3 separate regions of the Homo sapiens genome follow, and regions 2 and 3 are each linked to region 1. The links come from fine-mapping of genetic effects on plasma protein levels. A gene starts in region 1. Each other region holds a variant in brackets. All regions are shown on one strand. Distances are between the middles of the regions. Region 1 holds the start of NPL (N-acetylneuraminate pyruvate lyase). Region 2 has its middle 21 kb from the start of LAMC1-AS1. Region 3 overlaps LAMC1 (laminin subunit gamma 1).

The links. PIP is the posterior inclusion probability: the model's chance that the variant is causal. Protein levels are from antibody-based Olink assays in UK Biobank. Linkage for the fine-mapping came from a reference panel and not from the study's own genotypes, which makes the PIPs less certain.
Region 2: its variant is fine-mapped to the plasma level of the NPL protein (UK Biobank, PIP above 0.99).
Region 3: its variant is fine-mapped to the plasma level of the NPL protein (UK Biobank, PIP above 0.99).

Annotation. Positions count from the first base shown.
Region 1 is chr1:182,786,000-182,794,274 of GRCh38, reverse strand. It overlaps NPL (N-acetylneuraminate pyruvate lyase), which reads right to left and starts at 4,502. Exons shown (of 13, transcript NM_030769.3): 1 at 4,470-4,502; 2 at 1,989-2,043. RefSeq lists an enhancer at 4,349-4,849.
Region 2 is chr1:183,157,851-183,166,125 of GRCh38, reverse strand. No RefSeq gene overlaps it. Among named protein-coding and RNA genes, the nearest start is that of LAMC1-AS1, 21 kb to the right of the region's middle. RefSeq lists an enhancer at 6,511-7,012. The variant A/T (reference allele first, on the strand shown) is at 3,753.
Region 3 is chr1:183,124,179-183,132,178 of GRCh38, reverse strand. It overlaps LAMC1 (laminin subunit gamma 1), which reads right to left. Exons shown (of 28, transcript NM_002293.4): 14 at 7,303-7,548; 15 at 6,629-6,782; 16 at 5,917-6,059; 17 at 4,775-4,953; 18 at 3,429-3,585; 19 at 1,630-1,835; 20 at 801-880. Among named protein-coding and RNA genes, the nearest start is that of LAMC1-AS1, 13 kb to the left of the region's middle. The variant G/A (reference allele first, on the strand shown) is at 4,889.

The DNA of each region.
Region 1 (8,275 bases):
TAGAACTGTAAAATGTGCTTACAAGTACACAAACACACAGAGCAAGTACAAGATGGTAAAATTTTAGTGCTTAATTCTATTGAGGAGGAAACTTTAAGACAGGAGAGGGTAGACTTGAGAAAATACTACGTGGACAGTCTCCCATTTTAGCTATACAGATGATGGAAGCAATCTAACACCTCAAAGGATAGAGGTTAACAGCAGCAGACCCAAGAAAGAGCTTGAACCTAACTCAGGTAAGTAAAACATACAGTGAATTATAGTCATGCCTCAGTATACACAGAAGATCAGTTCCAGGACCTTCGTGTATACCAAAATCCATGCCTACTCAAGTCACACAGTCAGCCCCAAGCCTGGCATATGAGAATTCTGCATCCTGCAAATACTGATTTTCTATCCGTATTTGGTTGAAAAAAATCTGTGTAAATGGACCTGCACACTTCAAATCAACGTAATTCAAGGGTCAACTGTACTATTACTTAAACTGAAATATGGTCATAAAAGGGGACATTTTCTCTTTCCATTGTCTTCATTCTTAGAATCTCACCTAAAACAAGCCTGTCTTAAGGTTTCATCATGATTTACATAACTACCTTCAGATTTACCTATCTTTTTATATCCTAATTTTGCCCAGTTTTGTCCAGTTTTCCTAGTTCTAGTTAACCATGTAGACTGCATATTCACCTCCCTCTTCCCCACTACAGCAGGCTCCCAGGACAGGGATGTTTCATTTGCCTTTGCTCTCTGCAGTGAGCCCTCTGCTTGACACCAGGTGTTCAATTCAAGAGCGAAGAATATGTGGGTGACTGAACGAGGTGTTCAGACTGTGACTGGATGATGGCTTCCACAGATGGGTAGCGCACTGCTGGAAGAGTCCAACTCACACCACTCATTTGGGGCCAAAGGATCTCTCACCATCTGGCAGAGAGTGTACCTGCCCATAATCAGTGTAAAAGACTCTGGATGGGCCACAAGAAGCAACAGAGCAGACTGGTTAACAGCCTCAGTTCCATAGGCAGACCACCTGGTTCAACTCACAGCTCTGACATTTGCTAGTTCTAGAAGCATTATTGTTTTTTGAGCTATAAGACATAAAAAGCCACAAATGCAATTTCAGACCACAAATTTAATGTCTAACAATTGAAAATGAAAATAAAATATAATCAGATAGTATTTGATGACAATTCTACAAAAGATAGTGGTCTTGTAGCAAATAAAGTGATGTCTGTAGGTGACCAACAAGAAGGGTTATGCTATAGTTCTGACATTACTGGCACATTCAAAAATGCAATGCCCACTATACTTAAATCTAACCCACATAATGTAGTACTTAGTTATAAGCTATCTTGTTTTGTTTGCTCTTCTAATTGTTCATCTTATCTTCCCAAATAGGAGAATAAACTTCTGAAGTACAGAGACCATATCTTCTATTTTTCTTCCCCAAGAGTCTTGGCTCAGGTAAGCCCTTGAGAAACACTGACTGTTTTCAGTAGAAAGACAACACGATACTTTCCTTGCAAACAGACATGTTCTCAGCAAGAGTTGCTCCTAAAATCAAGACCAAGTCCTGCATGTAGCTTTGCTCTGTATTTCCTAGTTCAAACATGAGACTAAAAGCAGATTGGAAGTTTAGAAAGATGAATCCAATAACCTGGCCCATGGGAAAACACAAGATAATAAATCATAAGATGTGGCTCTAATCACTCTTTGAGCTTCATGTGACCACCCTCAGTACAATAAGCAGGCCACTTAGCCTCTGAGCCTTAAAGGCCCATAACCTAAGCCATCTCCCCACTGGAGGGATGTTTAAGTATCAAAGGAGATTGATGCTATGCCTGCTGTATATCTTCACCTAGCACTCCCACAAACATCTCAACTTAACATGCCCAAAGGGACCTGCCATCTCCTTTGTTCCTTACTGTAGAGGGGTGAGAGGGCCAGCTCTGGAGTCAGACCTCATGGATCTGCATCCTGGCTCCACCACTTACCAGGTAGGTGACCTTGAGCCCATTAAGTAACCTCTTTCTGCTTCAGTTTCCCCTTCTGTAAATGAGGATAATAGTAATTATATTTCATAGGGTTGAGAGAATTAAATGAACTAATTCATGTAAAGTGATTAACAACAATGCTAGGCACATAGTGAGTACGTGTTCAGTGCTCTCCATGAAGTCTTGCCTGATGTGTATAGGACAGTAGAAAATACTATCATGCCCTTACCAGCATCATCTTCCCAGTCATCTCTGCTCTGCTAGTGCCTCCTTTCCAACACTCACTACTCTTGTCTATTTAGGGACTAAGTCATTTCAATTCTGTTATCTTCTTCCCCTGCTATTCCTCCTTTCGCCTTTATAATTTTTCCCTTCGTTACCTCTTATCTAGACAAATAGGCAAAACCCCAGGTCCACAGGGCCCAAGAAGGTTCAAGTGATAAGAGTCCTGAGAGCTTGAGTCAGCATTAAACACCTCCTAAATCCAACACTACTAGGCTGTTCAGGCTAAATAAAACTCCGTAGTCTTGTGCTTTTGCCTGCATTTATTTGATACTAAGGACGGTAACACTGATGTTCTTAGAATCATCAGAAGCTCAAATTGGCAGTTTTATATGTCTTTAATGGAAAGAAATAAAACTAATTACCACAAATGTAGTTTGATTAGTTCAAAAATTCAAAACAAGGGGCCGTTGGGAGTGTAGGATAGGGGTTAGGAATCACTGTCCTAATCCCTCTTCTCTTCTTCAATCCACACCAGCTGTCAGATTAATCTTCCAGTAACACCAGCATTTCTGGTCTTGTCTTTGTCCTGTTTAGAAAATGCCAGTAGGCTAAAGAACCAGCTCCCTGGGGTCTGGGTCTCTATTGAAATCTTCGTGCCTGCACTATACTTGCCCAGCTGAACAAACTGTTTGCTGTTCCTCCTATCTACCTTTCACTGTCTGTCTGCTTGCCTTTGTTCCTGTGGTTCTCTCACTTCAATCTCTTCGGTCTGATCAACTTTTAAAGCTCACTTTATCCATTCCAGCAGGTATAGCTTAAAAACAAAAACAAACAAAAACCAAAAAACCTCTCATTTTAAAAACCAGGGGATTTCCTGATACCCCAGCCGAAAATAATTTCTTAAACCTCAGAATTCCCCCAAACAGTGGCTTTTCATTAAAAACCTTACATCAGAGTTATTAAGCAGGGTGGTTTTGGCTCCTCTCCTAGACTGTCTGCCATCTGGGGGCAATGGCAGCTTGGAAAATTTCTTTGCACAGATAACTACACTACGTAAAAGTTTGCTGCCTTTGCAAACTTTGAAACGCCTACAGGAAGAAATGGGATAAAAACGACTTTGGCCGGGCGCGGTGGCTCAAGCCTGTAATCCCAGCACTTTGGGAGGCCGAGGTGGGCGGATCACCTGAGGTCAGGAGTTCGAGACCAGCCTGGCCAACATGGCCAAACCCCGTCTCTACTAAAAATACAAAATTAGCCGGGCGTGGTGGCGGGAGCCTGTAGTCCCAGCTACTCGGGAGGCTGAGGCAGGAGAATGGCGTGAACCTGGGAGGTGGAGCTTGCAGTGAGCCGAGATAGCGCCACTGCAGTCCGGCCTGGGCGACAAGAGCGAGACTCCGTCTCAAAAACAACAACAACAACAACAACAACAACAACAACAACAACAACAAAAGACTTTAACAGAGAATGATCAGTATTTTTAAGATTCAAGTTTTTAATAAACTTGGGAATGTTATGCTTTGAAGCATAACAGATAATTATCATTATTTTTAAGATTCAAGTTTTAGATAAACTTGGGAATGTTATGCTTTGAAGTTTTCAGAGCTCGTAGCTAAAGCGAATAGCTCAAATGTTCTCCAGCCTAAGGCTTAATGTGAATTTAGATTATTACTGAAACATTGGGAGGGGGTATTACTCTTGAAATCTTATACCTCCATCCACAGATAAGAACACTCAGTGCAAAGAATTAAAGCTGCCTAAGTCAAATTCTTTTTTAAATGGCAAAGTTGTTTTTTTAAGAGACAGAAAGTGAGGGCAGAATGTACCTCTGGGCAGAGAATATCTTGAGGGACAGGTACTCGGAGAAGAGGAGATACAAATAGGGATTTTTAAAAAAGCAGAAAACCACCAATTTCTCCTCAAGTGAAGGGGGGATGTATCAGGTTTAACTTTAAGCTCTCTTCTGCTCAATTGCTAACTCTATTTTGAGGAAAGGACCTTTGGAGACCCGGCAGATATGCTGTCTGCAAACAATCCGGGGGAGTAAGTTCTTCTGCCCCCGTCTGTCCCTACACTTTTCGCATTCACACCTTCCCCAGATCCGTTTCCCAGCGTATCTGCCTTCCCTCTTTCCTCCGGGTCCGTCAACGTCTCACCCACCCGCGAGTCAGGCCCCAGCGCCCCTCCGCCCGAACGCCCAGGTCGTCGGGCCGTCTGCGTCCGTCTGTCCTAGCCCGTGCCGTCGCGGGCCGCGCTCACCCAGGCCTCCGCTCTTGTCCGTGCAGCCGCTCCGCCCGGCAGCCGCCGCCGCGCTTTATATCCGCGGCCGCCCGGCTCGGGCCCACGTGCCGCCACGCCAGGGAGCCTGGGGGTTGTAGTTCTGCGCCGCCGCCCGCGAGGCGCGCCCGGAACCGCTGGCCCGGAAACCCCGAAACGTTTTGCACACTGGAGTCTGCTCTTCCCCGGGTGTCACCTGAACAACATGGGCTGAAGTGACTCCGGCGCAGCGCCCCGGCTCCCCGAGGATCGGAAGCATCCGAACTGGCGGCCGGGTGCCCGAGAGCACGCGGCTCACCCGCGCCACGCCGAGTGCAAACCTCCCCCTGCCTCGTCTGCACGCCAGTCCTTCCCGCGTGCGGGCACCTCCTGGGCTCCGCTGCGTCTTAATTTTCCTTCTCTTGCGCAGGGCTCTGCAATCCCCACTATCTCGTGGTTCTGCGTTGTGAGGTTTGGGCTGCTGTTTCCGAGGCGTACGGAGAATCCCAACTGCCCATCGGCGTTCAGGTCTCTTCGGGTTGACGCCGCTGCACCAGCCCTGCAGACTCTCGTGTTAAAGAGAGATGAGCGAATTTTAAAGTGAATTATCTACTCATACGGGAGCTTTCCTGGCTTCTTTTGGAGAACATTTGAAAGAGTTTTGAAAGGGAAAATTATTTTTAACCCAACCGCCTCTACTTTCAGGAGTATCAGGAGTCTTATTCTAGGATCATGTACTGTGTGAATAAATCAGGAACAGAGCCAGAGACAAGTCCTCAGTTTTCTCTTGCTGATGTGATTCCACCTCAATTTTCCATAAAAGGCGATGGCTGATGCTTATTATTACATTTAGAGAAACTAAATTGTTCAAAGGGCTTTCTAGTTTGCAAAGTGCTTTTAAATGTATTCTAATAGTTCTTTCGTTGCACAGAGCACCAGAGATAATAGCTAATAAGTACTGTGTTCAGTGCTTACTCAGCCTGCACCGTTCTAGCTGTTTTAACATTTAATTCATAAAATAATCCCATTGGTGGGTCCTGTTTTATAAATGTATATATTACAGATGAGCAAGGATCATTCCATTTTACAGATCAGAAACAGGTTTAAAGAGTTGAAGTAATTTGCCAAAAGCCATAGAGCTGGTTAAGCTGTGGTTTGATTTCAAGTAGTCCAGAAGCTTGTGCTTTTAACACTATGTTATCCTACAGGAAAAAAAAATACAAAAAGAAAAGAAAAAGAAAAACCCTTAGTTACATGAAGCAAGTTCTCCTAAGGCTGCAGCATGGTTTTTGTTTTGGTTTGGTTTTTGTAATATTAACAAGAATATTATATCCTAATGGTACAATGAAAGTTTTTTTTTTTTTTGGAAAGTCACAGTTTAATAAGTGCAAAATTAAGTATGTCAGTACCCAAAAGGTATAGGTCATTAGGCTTAACATTGTCAACCAACAAACCAATATTCTAAATGCATGAACTAACTACTTTTTGTATAAATATGGTAGTGCAAAGTAATTCCTTATAATAATTTGTTAGTGTCTACCAAGAAGCAGATGCTAAGATGGGATTAGATGTGCAAGAAACTTACTGGGGGAGGGATTTGGAGCAGACAGGAGCAGCCTGCAGACTGATGTAGGGCTGACATCTGTGGAACAAAAGATGGAAGAAAGGAGCATGGAGTAGGGAGAGTCTCACTGCATTCTTACAGTATCCACTCTGTGCCGTTATGAAACTCAGAGCCTATACTGTGAAGTGTTGGGGAGACGTTGTTTTAAAATATGGTAAATGCAGTGATAGACTGTACAGAGATATTACAGGAACACTGAGCTCTAATCTGGGCTGAAGGGGGTGGTGTGTGTGTGTGTGTGTGTGTGTGTGTGTGTGAAGAGGCAGGAGGGTGTTCCAGAAACGTCTTACTGGGGAAGGTCACAGCCAAGCTAAATATCAGACAATGAGTAGGGCTTAGAAGAAGAGAGGCAACAAAAGGCTCAGTGCTGAACTGCAGGCCTCTAACCCCCTTCTGATAAGCGGCAGTCTCTGTGAGATTTCTTCTATTATTATGTAGTATTATTTAATCATTAATTTTCTTGCTTTTGTTTCTTGCCCCCAACTCCACTGCAAGGTGTTCAAGGCAGGCATCATGTCCTATTCCTTTGTTTTTCCCACAGTGCAGGACATAGTGTCTATCCAAGTGCAGGCCAAGAGGGTGAGATTTAGAAATATTACTACCATCAACTCTTCTTTGTTTAAAACAAATGTATGTCAGGGTTTTGTATCAGATTTTGTTTGCTACAATTCAAATTTGAAACCCACTGGTGCAGGGGAAAGAGCTTGGGAGATATGGTGCAATGAACTTGGTCAGAACAGTCATATGTTCTATCCTTGGAGCTGGAGGTGATGCCCCCATCACAGGCTCCTGAACTGACTGTGGGTGAGGGGTGGTCCCCCAGAAAGTTTCCCCTTATCTTCTGGTAAGGCTATACTAACCTGAAAAGAGAAAATGGGTTTTCAACAACTGAAACACTGCTAAATTGCGGAACACTTATGAAGGAAGGAGACCTAAGTTGGATCTTGAAGTGTTGTTACCCATTGTGTTCCAGTAAAAGGTCTGTCCACAGGTGGACAAGAGTCTGTTCCATTCACTGTGAAGAATGCGTAACCGGGTATGAGAGTCACTTCTGGAAATTCTGGCTTGTATGGGTGTGTCAATGGGGCTGATGGAAAAGGTAGGGTTTATTTTTTCATCAGAGTCCAGAGGTCTTCAGAGAAGGGAACAGGCCACGAATAGAAGTTGAACTGATTGCTGGCCCTGAGACAAAAACCCTTGTCCTTTAGGGTTTATCTTCTGAGCGTGAGTGCTAACTAGGAGAGGGACATCTCTTGAGAAGGGAAAAGTCCTGTGCATAAGCTTGGGTTCAGAAGATCCTTTGGGATCCCAGGAGGGGGCAGCATAGTGCGGCCATGCTCAGCTGTCTTTTGGCTTAGCCCTTTAGTGAATGCTTACTGGGTTCTTAAGGAGAAAGAGCTAGAAGGAAAAAAATGAGTTGAACACAAGAGATATACTTCCATATTTGGCATTCTTAAACCTAAGATCTGTGACTCCAGATTTTTAAGTAACGACTTTATTGACATATATTTCACTATGATACAATTCATTTAAGTGTATAATAGTTCAGTAGTTTAGTCTATTCACAGAATTGTGCAACTTGTGTCACCATTTTAGAACATTTTCATCACTCCCTCCAATAAAACCCTAGCCATTAGTAGTCACTCATTTTTCTATTTCCCCCTCCCCACCCCCAGCCATAAGCAGCCACCAATCTATTTCTTTCTTTCTTCTTACTTTTTTTTTTGGTTGCCCAGGCTGGAGTGCAATGATGCAATCTTGGCTCACCACAACCTCTGGCTCCCAGGTGATTCTCCTGCCTCAGCCTCTGGAGTAGCTGGGATTACAGGCATGCGCCACCATGCCAGGCTAATTTTGTATTTTTAGTAGAGGCGGGGTATCTCCATGTTGGTCAGGCTGGTCTCAAACTCCCAACCTCAGGTGATCCGCCCACCTCAGCCTCCCAAAGTGTTAGGATTACAGGCGTGAGCCACTGTGCCTGGCCGCCACTAATCTATTTCTATAGATTTGCCCATTCTGGACATTTCATATAAATGGAATTATATGGTGTGTGTGTGTGTGTGTGTGTGTGTTTTGAGACGGGCTCTCACTCTGTTACCTAGGCTAGAGTGCAGTGACATGACCACAGCTCACTGTACCTTTGACCTCCCAGGCTCAAGCTATCCTCCCACCTCAACCTCCTAAG
Region 2 (8,275 bases), 370 kb before region 1:
CAGAGTGAGATTCCATCTCAAAAAAATAAATAAATAAATAAATAAAGTTCGTATTCTCTTCATATTTTCTTCAGTTTTTACCCAATGTCCTTTTTCTGTTCCGGGGTTCCATCCAGGATATCACGTTACACTTGGTTGTCACCTTAGACTCCTCGTGGCTGTGACAGTTTCTCAGACTGTCCGTGTTTTTTGACGGCCTTGATAGTTTGGAGGAGTAATGGGCAGGCGTTTTGTAGAACATCCTTCAGTTGAGGTTTGTCTGATGTTTTTCTCATGATTATAATAGAACAGGGTTACTAGTTTTGGTGAGGAAGACCACAGAGGCAAGTGCCATTTTCATTTCATTGTGTCAAGAGTACTTCCCACTGTTGGGGTTACTCTGGAGCCCCTGGGTGAAGTAGTTTGTAGTGTTGCCCATGGTAACATGACTCTCCCCGCCCTTTTCAATACTGTGCTCTGAGAGGAATTCGCTATGTGCTGCCCACACTTAAGGAGTGTGAGTTATCCTGCATCTCCTTGAGGGCAGAACATCTACATAAATTATTTGTAGTTCCTCTGTAAGGGAGATTTGTCTTTTCTCCTCAAGTAATTTTTCCCATCTAGTCTTTACTTGAATGAATTATTTTATTTTCACTGAACACCAACTAAAAAATAGTCTAAAGCCAATTCCCCCAAATTGATGGAATTTCCTGTAATTATTAGTATTTGGAGTGTTCTTAAGCCTGGGCATGGGGGAAATATGACAAAAACAAGGTTTCTAAAACCTGACTTAATCTTCTAGTTGAGTGTCACAGTGGGCAGATCCGGAATTAGTAATTCCTTGCTAACCCTATACGGAAAGGCCCGAAAATGAATAAGGACTTAAAAATAAAATGAGTGGGATGGTCAAAACCAATATAAATGAATTGCTGTGAGCCAAATGGAAAAGCATCCTTTGGCAAGTTTCAACCAGTTACCTCTGCATGCCCTGAGAATGTGCTTTTGGTGTTCCAGGCCACTGGGCGCCCTTTGTAGGCAGGCATCCTGCCCCTCCTCCAAAAGGAGGCAATCTCCTAAAACATGCCTCTCCTAAGACACAGATGTTCAGACTGTCCTAGAATTAACATGCTCTTAAAAATCATACACATACACACACCCTTTTATTATTATTATTATTATTATTTTTAGAATAAAAGCCATGTCTTAATTAGAATAATTTGCTGGGTAACCAAAAATCCACTTGAACTTTTCCTTGGAGAGACTCCTTCCTTGTAAAACTAAAAAGTATATGCTTTAGGGTTGCTCATTTGAAAGAAAATGGGAGAAGATTATTGTTGGATCAGCCTGTAGTTTTTATATCTGTTTGGTCAGATCAAAATTAGCCACCATTATCTTCACCCCATCAGTATATTTTTTTTCTCTGAAAGCAATTCAAACTTTGTTCCCAAAGCATGAACTTACAGACATAGGCTAGTGTTGTACATTTCTCCAAAGTTTGCCTCCAGAAGAAAAGACCTCTAATGTGCCAGCAGGTTCCTTGCACCCGCCCCCACCTTGGGTCAGGCACAGCCCAGTTGCAGCATTCCAAGGCTCTGACACATCTCCTTGGAAACCCACCCATTGCCTGGTATATAGCAACCTGCATTCCCCAGTGGTAGAGGCCTTGATTCCTGTCTTATCCTGTTCTTCTGTGCTTTCATACACATCTGAGGACAGGCCTTCATTTTGATCTATTATCTCAGGCCATTAAAATGAGCAGAAGGAAAAAAGTCCTTGAACAGCTCCAGTGTAATTGTGGTGAAGATTCTTAAAAAGAATTCTCATGGCCATTTCAGAGCCTCCTCAGTTTCCCCATTTCCTACAAATGCAGCAAATGGAGAACTGCCTTCATTACACAGAAAGTTCAGGGAAGAACATGTTGGTGTTGCAAGTGGTTTCTGGCCAACTATACCCCTGCTAACAGTATTTTTCTAAAGTATGGCACTTCATTTCCAGATTAGGCACACTCACACCTTCATTTAACAAATTAGGTGTCCTCAATGTGTCACCCACTATCTAAAGCATGATTATTATGATCTTTCTGGAAGATTTTGGATCTTGTTCATTCTTAACCATTATTTTTATTCAGCACTATAGTTAATACAGACAGTATAAGTCAAAGTTTTGCTCACCCTTTGCTCACTTGGAATTTTGGAAATCTTTGTTTATTTTTTTAAATGAGATTATTGATATGAGCTTATATTCTTGAGATATTTTTCTTTTAATTAACTCAATTGCTCAGCGGGGAGAGTGGTGGGTGGGATCCAGTCAATCTAAGGGCTTTGATTAATGTTTTATAGGTATGTAGTTTCCAAATTCTTTGCCTGCAGAGGTACACTAAAAGAATGCTAGTTTGCAGAATGCACATGGAACCACAAAAGGAAATACAGTAATCTGATATTTGGTTAGAGTAAATCAGATATCCCTATTTAAACCATTGGCTTTACAAAAATTACACAAGTGTACTTCATCAACCCCAAGCATGCACGCTAGTGTTCATGTGGGACTCAAACCCACCCTTTTGTATCAAGGAGTCTCATCAAGTGTCCATCATGTGTCTGTGTGCAGGATGCAAAGAGCCAGGACATCCATGAGTCACGATGTGTCATTCATGGCCTATGGGCTGACAAAGTGAATAAATATTTCGTTAGGCTTTATTTGAGAAATAAAACTTCAGGACAATGTACTGAAGTGGCTTCAACTGGGACAGGATTGAAAGAGAGAAAAGTGTGATTACTTAACCAAACAAATTATCTAGTAAAACACCTACTTCAGCTACTCACTACTGTGATCACATCTAGATGGTGCCATTTCAATCACGTGTACTTTTTCCACAACCTCAGTTTCAAGCACCCCGTCTCTAATCACCACCGTTGATTCTTGAAGCTCAGTCACTCGAGTGCCCAGACTTTAATAATATCTCAACCCTCTGGAGCCTACGATCCATTGAACCTGCCACCTTTGCACTTCTCCCACCTTCCTTTACCATCATAGCCCTCCTAACCCATTTTAAATTCCATGGTTAGTCATTAGAATCCATCCTTCACACACACCCACAACTTACTGCCTCACTTTGAATTCACGTTCATTAGCTTCAAGGGGTTCTTAATACTACCTGGCCATCAGATCCATTTCCCCAGTCCATTGGCTTTCCTGTTCTCCTCAAAGACCGTTTCACACTTTCCCTTTTTCTTCAAACCTTCCACTCTTCCTCCCCCATGTCACTCTGCTAATGATTTATTTCCTAAGACACACAAAAACCCAGAAGTACTCAGAAGAGAACTTCTACCACACACTTCTACAGCCACATCCCACAATTTGCCTACCTTCCCCATGATCACATATCCCATCTCAGGTCAACAGGAGGGCTCCTCCCTTGCCCTCATCAAGGACTGCACTCAGGGATTCTCTACCTGCATCGTTGGTTTTTTTCTTTCTTCTAGGATATTGCCCGCCTGCCTACAACATGCTGTTGGTTTTTCCTATCTCAAAAAAACAAAACGACTGCCTTGAACCCATGCTATACTTTAGCTTCTGCCCTATTTTTCTGCTCCCCTTTAGAGCAATACGAAAGAGTTGTCCATACTGACTCTCCCCAGTTTCTGTTCTCCTAGTCTCTCTTGAAACTGCTGCAATTAGGTTTCAAGAAACCTCTCCATGGCAATTAGGTTTTTGCCTCCATTATTCCAATGAAACTGCCTATACCTAGGTCTCCAGGGCCTTCCATGTTGTAA[A/T]CTCAATGGCCAATTCTCAGCCATAATCTTCTTGGCTCTGACAGCATCATTTAACATAACTGATCATTTCTTTCTCCTTAAAACACTTTCTTTTCTTGGTTTCCAGGACATTGTGCTCATAAGGCTTTTCTCCATGAGGCATCTCCTTCTCAGTCTACTTTGCTGAATCCTTTTCTCTCCACCTCTTAACATAGAAGTGCCCCTTAAGGTAGAAGAAGCCACCAGAAGCTCAGGCCTTGAATCTCTTTTATGTCTACGCTCACTCCTTTGATTTTCCCACCTAGTTTCAAAGCTTTAAGCATATATGCTGATGACTTTCAAATTTATGTCTTCAGCCTGCTTGCACAGCTGTCCTGAACACTATGCTCATATATCTAACTGCATAATCGAAATCTCCATTTAGATGGGTAATTAATATCACCAATGTAATACATGCAGAGCTGAACTCCTGATGTTCTGTCCCCCTAGACCTCTTCTGCCTCAGTCTTCCATACCCTTGTTCAGTCCAAGAATCTTGAAGTCATTCTTGACTCTTTTCTTCCATAGAAAATCTTGCTGTCTTACTCTACCTTCAGATCATAATCAGAATTGGATCACTTCTCATCAACCTCCACTGTAATCACGTTGATTCCAGCCCCCCCTTGTCTTTTGCATGGATGATTGTCATTGCATCCCATCTCCTCGCCCTACTTTTGCCCTTGTCCCACTTTGGTCTACCTTAACACAACTGCCAGGAAACTCCTATTATAGTGTGACTCAGGTCATGTCATTCCTTGTTATAGAGGCATCCAGTGGCATTCTATCTCATTCTGAGTAAAAGCCAAAGTCTTTGGAATGGCCTCAAGAGCCAATACTATGTGTCCTGCCCCACCTCCCACCCCATGGGTCTCACTGTCCTCCTTCTCACACAGCCCCAGCCACGGGACCACTTCCACTGCAGGACCTTTTCCCTTGCTGGTGCCTCTGCCTGGAATGTGCTTTCTCTAGATATCTACATGGGTCCAGTCTTCAATTAAATGCCATTTTCTTAAAGAGGCTTTCTCTACCATCTTGTATAAATTTGTAAGCTCACCCTACCCCCAAACATGTTCTCTCTCCCTTCCCAGCTTTATTTTTCTTCATAGAACTTTCTCCCCTGGCTGGGCGCGGTGGCTCACTCCGGTAATCCCAGCATTTTGGGGGGCCAAGGTGGGCCGATCACGAGGTCAGGAGATCGAGACCATCCTGGCTAACACGGTGAAACCCCGTCTCTACTAAAAATACAAAAATTAGCCAGGCATGGTGGCGGGTTCCTGTAGTCCCAGCTACTCAGGAGGCTGAGGCAGGAGAATCACTTGAACCTGGGAGACAGAGGTTGCAGTCGGCTGGGATTGCGCCACTGCACTCCAGCCTGAGCGACAGAGCAAGACTCAGTCTCAAAAAAAAAAAAAAAAAAAAAAAAGAGTTTAGATCTTTCAACTCAATGAAATAGCATTGTTTTGGTTGTTGTTGCTGTTTTGTTTTGTTTTCATAAAAATAAAGCTAGCACCAAGTCCTGGCTGAAAAGTCGAGGTCTATGTTCTTGCTGTTCAGTTTGTGTTCTGTTTGGAGCAGGCTCGGGTCTGAGGGCAACCCCAAAACTACCATTTCTGATATGCAATGTGATGCGGGTGGAGGCAGATGGAATTCTCTTTTAAGAAGTGATCTTGGCCAGGCGCCGTGGCTCACGCCTGCAATCCCAGCACTTTGGGAGGCCCAGATGGGCGGATCATGGGGTCAGGAGATCGAGAGCATCCTGGCTAACACGGTGAAACCCCGTCTCTACTAAAAACACACAAAAAAATTAGCTGGGCGCGGTGGCGGGCGCCTGTAGTCCCAGCTACTCGGGAGGCTGAGGCAGGAGAAAGGCGTGAACCCGGGAGGCGGAGTTTGCAGTGAGCCGAGATCGTGCCACTGCACTCCAGCTTGGGCGACCGAGCGAGACTCCGCCTCAAAAAAAAAAAAGAAGTGATCTTTAAGAATTGAGCTTTGCCTCTTCCATTTTTGAGACTAAAAGGCTTAACTAAAAAGATACTGAAGGCTCCACCCAGTCAAGCCATTCATAGTTGCCCGGTGAACACATGCTTCAGGCGCTCTTTCTTCCTTTGGCAAAAGTCTGATTCTGTAGCCTCTGGCCATGTTCTGGAGGCGGGACACTCCCACTGGGAGCCACACCCGCCTTCATCATGCAGTGAGCACACCAAACAGGTTTGCCTGGCTAGACGGTGGCTGAGGTGTCTGCGGCAGAGGGAAGTACAGTCATGCACACGCCCAGTGACGGAGCCACTGATGGACACCTCCACATGAAGGAAGCAATTGCTCTGCTCTCCCCTGGCTTAAAATAAACAGAGTAACTGCACAAAGGTGGATTTCCTGTGCGAGGAGAGCAGGGCTCAGGGACCCCTTCCCAGCCCTGTGCTTGCTTTTGAAATCCTATATTCTTTTTTTTTTTTTAAAGAGGACTCCCAAATTGTACAAGCTTCAGGCCCCACAAAAACTTTGTTTGCCATGACTATACTAAATTTTGTATATTGTTTCATATACTTACCCATTTATGTGAAGTACTTTATAAGGTAGTGTTGTTCCCATTTACAGGAAACACAGGCAAGATTGAGAGATTTAACCTGAGATCACACACCTAAATTGTCCATGAACGGTGGCTGCCACTCAGTAGGGCCTAAGGTTTACTTGAACTTGTTTTGATGTCTTTTGGTATATTTACTGGTTGTCTGATTTCAAATGCATCTCCCACATTAAAAGACTTGGCTCGCTTTTATTTTATGTTCATGGAACCATGCAGAACAAACGTGCCAAGTCCTAGCAGTAGAGAGTAATGATGAACCCCAGGAAGCCCAGCCCATTCCACCATCTCTCAGCCTGTTCACATCTATGAAGAGAAATTGCCATTTAGGCCTGTAATCCCGGCTGCCTGGGAGACTGAAGCAGGAGAATCACTGGAACCCAGGAGGCAGAGGCTGCAGTGAGCCGAGATCGGGCCACTGCACTCCAACCTGGGTGACAGAGGGAGACTCCATCTCAAAAAAAAAAAAAAAAAAATTGCCATTTAGAAAATCGTGTGAAAAGTAGAGAAACTGATGGGGAACTAAAATACTTATGTTAAGTTTTTAAAAATCAGTATCAGTCGTATCAGTCTCCACCTAGTTTTTCAGAAGGCTTTTGTCTTCCATAGATGGAACATCTTGATTAATTAACCAAGTCAATGTTTATACAATGCTTAGAGTATCTCAGTTTCTTAAGAAACTCAGAGAAGAGTTAACATTCATTGTTTCTAACTCTGTGATGAGCACAGACACATTCTGAACTTCTCTCTTCCTAATTCAAAGAGGTTGCAACCTGTTTCCTAGCAAGGGCAGCTGAAAGTAAAGATAATGTCTGGTTGAGTTCAACATGCAGACACATAGGATATACAAATGGTGAAAGCTAACACCAGGGGGAAAATTGTTAAGAACCAGTACACTAGTTACTAGATATATTAGATGTGATGAATCACTTAGGTGAGGGGCTTATTAAACCCAGACTGTTCTGAATCCTTCCACCCCTACTGTCTGATTCAGTCGGTCTAGGGTGGGGTTTGACAATGCATTTCTAAGAGGTTCCCGGGCAAGACAGATGTTGCTGGGCCCAGAGCTTCACTTTGAGAACCACCACTCTTGGAGATGTTCTGCAGTCCACAATCCTGTGCAAATACAAACTTGGTCTTATTACCTATTCAACCCTCATAAAGCTCAGTGCAAGAGCATAATAAAGCCCTCAATAGTTTTTGACAGACCTTCCTTAGAATTTAGTAAGACACCAGTAGACTACCATTGGTATGCTTTTGATGTCAACATGGTAAGATCTTTATACTCTGGGCCCTGATTAATGACTAGGCACTTTAAAGCCTCAAATAAGCAACGAGAGCTTGAAATAACCAAAAACTTGCTATGTTGTCATTGGTTTTTGTGTGTGTGTGGTTTTTTGTTTGTTTGTTTGTTTTTTGAGACCGAGTCTCACTCTACCGCCCAGGCTGGAGTGCAGTGGCACAATCTCTGCTCACTGCAACCTCCACCTCCCAGGCTCAAGTGATTCTTCTGCCTCAACCTCCCGAGTAGCTGGGACTACAGGCGCCCGCCACCACGCCTGGCCAATTTTTTGTATTTTTAGTAGAGATGGGGTTTCACCATGTTGGCCAGGCTGGTCTCAAACTCCTGACCTCAGGTGATCCACCTGCCCTGGCCTCCCAAAGTGCTGGGATTACAGGCATGAGCCACTGTGCCTGGCCGTCACTGGTTTTATGAGAACAACATCACATTACAAGAGTGGCCAACATGATCAGCCAAAAACTAGAACATGGACAATGAGCATAGGGAGCATGAGTTCTCTCTGGGAATACAGACCACAGGGCTTGGTCTCCAGGACATCAATACACAGAGAGGAATGGATGAGAGGAAAACCAGAAAAACTCAACTTCTCAGTGGCATATCACTGAATCTCTGTCCATGCAT
Region 3 (8,000 bases), 340 kb before region 1:
TGGTATTACACGCATACACACCATGCCCAGCTAATGCATCTTTAGTAGAGATGGGTTTCGCCATGTTGGCCAGGCTGGTCTCAAACTCCTGACCTTAGGTGATCCACCCGCCTTGGCCTCCCAAAGTGCTGGGATTACAGGCATGAGCCACTGCTCCCGGCCTACTTTATTATATGTACATATACTAACATGGGCAACAATTCTACAAATATTAGAAAACGTCATTCATTTGGAATTTTGTGATCATTTCAGTGGGGCTGAATTTATGAATAGCATTCTAAAACTGAGATGAGAATATTTTCCAAAAAAATTATTGGTATACATTTATAAGAGAAAATGTTTATAATTCTTCAGAAAAACTACTTTTAAATTTAATTATTTGAGAGTAATGTACATATAAAATTGTGTATGCCAGCAAGAAATCATTTACCTAGTTAAAAACAAATCCCATGCCTAATCTTTATTAACAACAATCTGCTAGTTTCATTCAGTTACTACAGTCTTAAATAAGTTAAAAATCTAAAAATATTATGGTTTTGAGAAATATAAATATGATTTGTCTTCAAACCATTGTATTCTAATATTCAAAGTGAATATTCTAATGTCAAAGTAAAAGGAAGAAAAGAGTATACACAGCTGATAATATCTTAGAAAAGAGAGCAAAGTGTGCAAAAGTGGGTTATGTAGAAAGTGTTTATGGGTTATGGGATAAGACAATACACACACACACACACACACACACACACACACCCCATAACAGAAGCCACAACTTAACCATTAAACAGGGATCTAGAAGTTACCGTTCAGCAAGCTTTCGAGCCTCTTCTGCCAAAAGAGTCATGTTGTTTGGGTCCCCTGTAGATTCTGGCTGAGTGACTGACTGCACAGGAAATAAAGCACTTATTCTCAAAGGACTGAATTATTTACATTTAATAAAGCAAGAGTCAAAACTAAATTTTTGTTAGAGGGCAAAAAGAATGCCTCTACCTTTTTTTTTTTTTTTTTTGAGATAGTTTCACTCTTGTTGCCCAGGCAGAAGGGCAATGGCACAATTTCAGTTCACCGCAACCTCTGCTTCCTGGGTTCAAGTGGTTCTCCTGCCTTAGCCTCCCAAGTAGCCGGGATTACAGGCATGCACCACCATACCCGGCTAATTTTGTATTTTTAGTAGAGACGGGGTTTCTCCATGTTGGTCAAGCTGGTCTCGAACTCTCGACCTCAGGTGATCCACCCGCCTCGGCCTCCCAAAGTGCTGGGATTACAGGCGTGAGCCACCGCGCCTGGCCCCAAGAATACCTCTTCTTATTTTCAGAGATCTTTATTTAATATCAGCACCCTTGATTGCAGATTCTATTTTCAGTAAAGGATAAAGGAAGATTAAACTGCCTAGTTCCATAGAAGGAACAAAGCTAGAGAAATAACCCAGATGTCCCTTGGTTTTTATCCAGTTTTTAATAACTGTTTCATGCCAACTATGAGCAATGTGGCTTTTCTGCCCCATATTTAGGGACAAATAAAAAGATGCATGGAGTCAATTTAGTTGAAGAAGCACTCCACTGCCAGTAACAGACTTGCTACAAACCCCAGGGGCCTCCCCCATCCCCACCTCAGACGTTTGCAATCACTTACCACATTGGCAGCAGCGACTTTTGCTTTCTCAAGTTCTCTGGATGCGATTTCAATCAACCGCTCTGTGTTCTCTACATGGGCACGCGCTTGTTCAGCCAAGTTTCCAGTCTCTTCAATGGTATTCCGGATATTCTGTAAACGGCTAATTTGGCTGGACAGAGTGTTATTCACTCTCTGTAGGCGATCCATCAAATTCTGGTCAACATCTAAAATGGTTTGCAGAAGAAAGTCTGTAAATTATCTGAAGAGGATCATATCATCTCACATGAAATCTGAGGCCCTATGTATCTCTACTCTTCTAAACATCGCAACTTTCTGCCAGGTTTCCACAAAGCCCCTGCCATAGCTGGACAGCCTTTACCACACCCAGTAGGTCCTTCACTGTGCACTCATCACACCTCCAACCGTGCGTCCATCTGTCCACTTGACTACGAACTCTTTCTTACTCACCACTATATCGCTGGTCTTATGCAGTGGTTGGCAAAGAGAAGACACCCAAGGAATGTTTAATGAAGGTGAGAATGACTGACTTTAATACCAGCACATGCAATTTAGTCATAAATCTACAATGTTGTTAAAAATGCTGCCAGCCCTAAAAGCCGAACATTTTTCAAAACCCAGAAAAAACTAGGTTTAAAACATAAGTTGAAGTATGACAAATTAAACTCATTTTGTATTTTAAACTAAATAGACTCTTTTGCCACCCCCATGTGCCAGCATATCAGTGTAATTTCTTTCAAACTGATCTCTGTTTTTGAATAGTTCTTCAAATTATTCTTTATTAATATGCTCATTCAACTTAAATCTCATACTCAGGTCCTAACAAATCAAAAGATAAATATAAGTCTGTTATTATTAAAACTCTCATGTATCATGAGGTTTTATTAATATATAAAAACCATTAAGTAAATTGACCAATTCATATTTCAGCATCATGCTCGGTGTTGGGGTCTAAATTTTCTAAGGAATGTGGGAAAAAAAAAAAAAGATGAGAAGTCAAAGGTAAGACCAATGAAGATGAATACAGGTTTGGAAAAAACCAACTTGGAACTTGGCTACCAAATGTATGTGCAGAGGTGACATTCTACAAACTCTTGCCTAACTATATATGGTGGTCCTGCTTGGAAGGTTACTCAATTATTTGATAATGTAAAAATTTTTTGGCTGGGCGCAGTGGCTCAAGCCTGTAATCCCAGCACTTTGGGAGGCTGAGGTGGGCAAATCACGAGGTCAGGAGATCGAGACCATCCTGGCTAACACGGTGAACCGCCATCTCTACTCAAAATACAAAAAAATTACCCCGGGCATGGTGGGCATGTGCCTGTAGTCCCAGGTACTTGGGAGGCTGAGGCAGGAGAATCACTTGAACCCAGGAGGTGGAGGTTGCAGTGAGCCAAGATCGCGCCACTGCACTCCAGCCTGGGCAACAGAGTGATTGTGGCTCAAAAAAAAAAAAAAAAAAAAAAAGCTTATGAAGACGCATGCCTTTAATGATTTTTAAAACTATTTTAATATTTTAAGACACCTTGTAATAGAACAGATTCATAAAATGCTTGAAATTTGAATATCGAATAGTTTTTTATTTGTTGGAAAATCACCCTATGCTTACTGTAGCTTAAAGCAGTAAATTTGTCAGGTTGCTTTTTGAATTAGTGTTTAAAAAATGAAATGATTTATAATCTATGAGTAGTTTAAAAACTGAGAAAGAATTTTATAAAACTATACTAACCTTGCTTTAGGAGCCACATCTAAAGATTGGTCCATCTCACAGAAGTCATGCACTGTTCAATCATGCGTACCTTTGACATCCTGGGCCTCACGAAGGAGGTCCATAACTTCCCTCTCTGCTTCCTTTAGTCTATCCTCGAAGGCTTGATCTGTCACCATCTCATCCCCAGTTCCAAGGTTTGCTATGAGACTCTCTAATTCCTGGAGCTTCACTCTATGATCAGCAACCTAAACATAAAGAAGAAAGAAAAGGGAAAGGTAGGACACACAAGTATTCCTGAAGAACTCAATCACACTTCCTGCAGGAATCATGGGCACTCCATGAATATGTAGTTCTTTTTTTTTTTTTTTAATTATTATTATACTTTAAGTTTTAGGATACATGTGCACAACATGCAGGTTTGTTACATATGTATACATGTGCCATGTTGGTGTGCTGCATGAATATGTAGTTCTATCCACTCCATGCATGTCTACTTCTGAAGAGAAGACGTGGCTAGTTTATTTTTCCAGCTTCAAAAAAAACCTTCAGAGCTGTTCCTTTGACTTTAAAGACTGTATGCTGATGAGTCTTAAGCTCTGACCTCTCCCTTGAGTGTCAGATTACCTTCGTGATACCTCCACTCAGCTCTCTGATAGGTATCTCAAACTTAACATCCAAAATTATACCTCTTACCTCTATTCTCTCTGAGGAATCTCCATCTCAGTAAATAAGGCCTCCAGCTACCTTAAGCAAAAAACCCAAGACACATCCTTATTCTTCTCTTTTCCTATCCTGTCCCCAAACACGCATATTTATCCAATCCAATTGAGGCTTCCCATTAAGCCCCATTCCTAACCATCATTCTTCACACATCAGTCAAGAGTGCTCCTCTTAAAATATAATCTGGATTTCCCAGATTTTAAGAGTTTCTTCAATGCATTCTTATTGGATTTGGGATAAAATCTAAACTTCTTACTATGGTCATCATGTTCCCATATAACCTGTCCGTACCAACCTCTCCCGTCTTAAAAAACAGAACACACCCTCTGCACTCAGCAGGCTCCAGCCACTCTCCAGCTTTCAGGCCTCTGTATACCAGGTTCCTTCTGCCTGGAACAAACCTACCATTACTTTTCACTCGGCTCATTCCTTTGTATCCATCAGATCTCACCTTAGATGAATTCTGTAGAGAGGCCTTACATAAAGTAGTTTCCCCCAGTTATTCTCCATTTGTATTCTTCCTGGCACTTATCTCAGTGTTTGTTTTGTTTATTTATTTATTTTTTATTATTTGCCTCCCAACTGGAACATAAGTCTTTAAGAACAGGGACCACATCTACCTTGTTCACCACTTTTTCTATAGAGATTAGTGCACAGTAAGTTGCCACTCAACGTCTGCTGGATGAATGAATGAATGCACTATTGACAGCTTACCTTATCCTTTACCAGCCGGTAACAAGCTGGACATTCCTGGCAGCCAGGCCAAGACCGATTGTAGAAATAGTTTTCTTCACACTGGTCACAGCGATTTCCCACAAAGCCTTCTCT[G/A]CATTCACAGCGACCATCATCTTTGCACTGAAGTGAAAGAGATCCCTCAGGATGACAGTCACAGGCTGCAGAATAAGGAGAAAATAATACATAATTAGCAAAAGAAGGAAGAGTATATCTCTTAATTCAGACTGATAACAATAAGCTGACTATAAGCTGACTATACTGTCATAATTTTTTTGAAAAACAGGACTATTTATGAGATCTTAAATGGCTAAGTCTGTTTAGCAGAGAAAACTGACATTTTTAAAAGTCAAAATGAGCTTTAAAGTAAAACGTGCAACCTTTGGGACACACTTCAGGTTACTTAGCAATTAGAGAAGTTATGAAACTATCAGTGCTCGTTTCATGCACTTCAAGGATTCATCTCTACCTTCAATTCTCCACTGTTTAATATTTCTCTAAGGAACTAGAAAACCCAAATGCTAATGCTTCTTTTGCATTATCTTATAGTTTGTTTATTCACTGTGTTCTCTGAACTGAGTCAATTACTTATGCTACATTCCACAGGAGAAATGAAGGAATTCAGAAAGCAAAAGCCAATCTGTTCTGAGGCCCAATTCCAGGCAAGTGTTTATGCCAAGGAGAAGCAGATGTTTACACGTAATCATACCAAAAGGGCCCCAAGGGTGGGAAGCAACTACAGCAAGTCAACAAACATGTTGTGAACAGAATCCTCCACTATTTCATTATCTGCACTAAGAATGCAATCAATAAAGAAGTTTCATGAACCACAGTGGGAAAGCTCAGTAATCAAAGGAAGACTTCCTTGGAAAAAATAAAAGATTGGAAAAAGGAAGCATCAGAAACGTTGTAAAAGAAAACATACAAAGAAACCAGAGAAGGCTTTGATCTGCAGAGTTTTAGAAATGGATAATATTCTTCAAATAAAGCATCTACGATGACTTAGGTACAGCCCTGACTATGAGTCAAGTGGCTAGACTGAGGCTGTCAAAGTCCTTTCTGGCCTTAAGACACTAACTGGAATTAGTGGAAGCTTAGAGTTGTATGCCACCAACACCCCTTACGTTTGCAGCCTTCAGGTCCAAACCCAAAGTGGTTGACCTCACAGCGCTCACAGTGCTGACCAGTGATGCCGGGCTGGCACTCACACTGGCCGGTGCGGATGTCACACTGCCCATTGGTGGAGCCCAAGGCATGGCAGTCACACCTGAAAATGAACACAGGACATTTCTCAGGCAAGAAAAACAGACTTTAAGCACAACTTTTTTTTTTTTTTAGTATAGCACTGATGTAATTTGTAACTTGTATCAGAAAACTGAATGGTAAGGGTTACTAAGATGGAATGTTAAGGGTTATTAAGCCCCTAAGGTTCAAGTAATTTTCATGAGTGCTATTCAGAACCTCTTTTCCTAACTTAACTGCTACCAGTGCTCTCCAGCCTGGGACTGTATGGACACTAAGTAGCAGCTTTGAAAACAGAAGTTCCCAGGCTGCAACCCTGAAGGGTCTGATTCTAAGTGCCTCAGAAAGGACCCGGCAATTTGTGCTTTTAAAAGGTTGCTCAGGTGATTCTGGCACAGCTGGGGCCACTGTGCTCCACTCCTTTCTTTCATTAGCTTTATTACAATTCTCCAGCACTGCCCCTGAAGGATGCCTTGCCTACATTAGGCGCTCCAGTAATTTCTGAACAGTCAATTATTAAATGTACTTATAAAAATTCATTTTTTATAACAGAAAAAGCAAAGATTACTTTCACCAAAGGCACCTATGTCTCACCTCTCACAGCCTTGCCCACTCTGCAGATTGTAGAATCCAGGGTCACAAGCACCACAGTCCTGGCCAGTCACGTGAGGCAAACATTCACACTGCCCCGTCACGGGGTTACAGCTGCTCTGCTGCTTCATGGTCCCATACAGATTGCAATTGCAGGCTAAGGCAGGAAGACAGAGATGGCAAAAGACACAAATCACCTGAGAGAAATACTAAAATATAAACAACCTAAAGAGATTCTTTAGACCTGTGTTGCCAGGTTGGTAGCTGCTGTCACATGTGGCTACTGAGCACTTTAAATGTGGCTGGTGAGTCTGAATTGAGATGTGCTATAAACGTGAGATACACACTGGATTTTGAAGGCTTAGCGTGAGAAAAAACATATATTTCATTAACAATTTTTATTGATTACTTATTGAAATCATATGTTGGATATATTAAATAAAATACATTAGTATTCATTTCACCTGTTTCTTTTTACAGGACCACAGGTGTCAGCCACCATGACTGTCCTTCTTTATACTTTTTTAATGTGGTGACTAGAAAATTTTAAAAGACAAAAGCGGTTCACAATGTATTTCTATTGGACTAAACAACTATACATATTTTAAGAGACACACAAGAATTCTCACAATAAAGGGGCATTTAGCTGTGACAGAATCTGATCAAAGGCTGATTACCTTTGCATTTGTCTGCTGGATTGGGAGCCAGGGGATTTCCAAAAAATCCGTCTTTGCACCGGTCACAATAGAAGCCAGCAGTGTTATAGATGCACTTCAGGCATTCTCCCGTCAAGCGATTGCAATTTCCAACTGCATTGGGATCGATGTTGTCACTGCACTGGCACAGGCGGCAAAGTCTCACAGGGCCGTTTCTACCCAGGGGGTCTCCAAAGTAGCCATCATCACAGAGCTCACATCTCTTACCTGGGGATGAGACAATCTGATGTTATGAAAGAAAGGCCTTAGACATTTTTGGTGCTAGATTACCACTGGCTACAGGTAATCTAGTGTAATCATCACATGAGAGAAGACATGGTGCAGTGGAGGGCAGAGGACCTGGGCTGCAGCCCTGGCACGGGGCCAGACCACCAGAGTGACCTTGAGCACATCTCTATTTCCTCACTAGACAGGAAGCACCTGGTCTGCCTACTTCACTTTAATTGTTGTGACAATCAACCCAAATCATGTATTAAAAGTGCTCGGTAAATGAGTCAAGCCCAAGGTTTATAAACTTCTCCAGTCTCAAAGGATGGCACATTCATATATGTTGTTTTGGCAGATGATATTAAAAGAGGTGAAGTGCCACTCTTGACACTGTAAGTTTCCCACACAACAGGGTGAGCAGAACCATTCTCTTAAAATGTAAGAGGCATGTG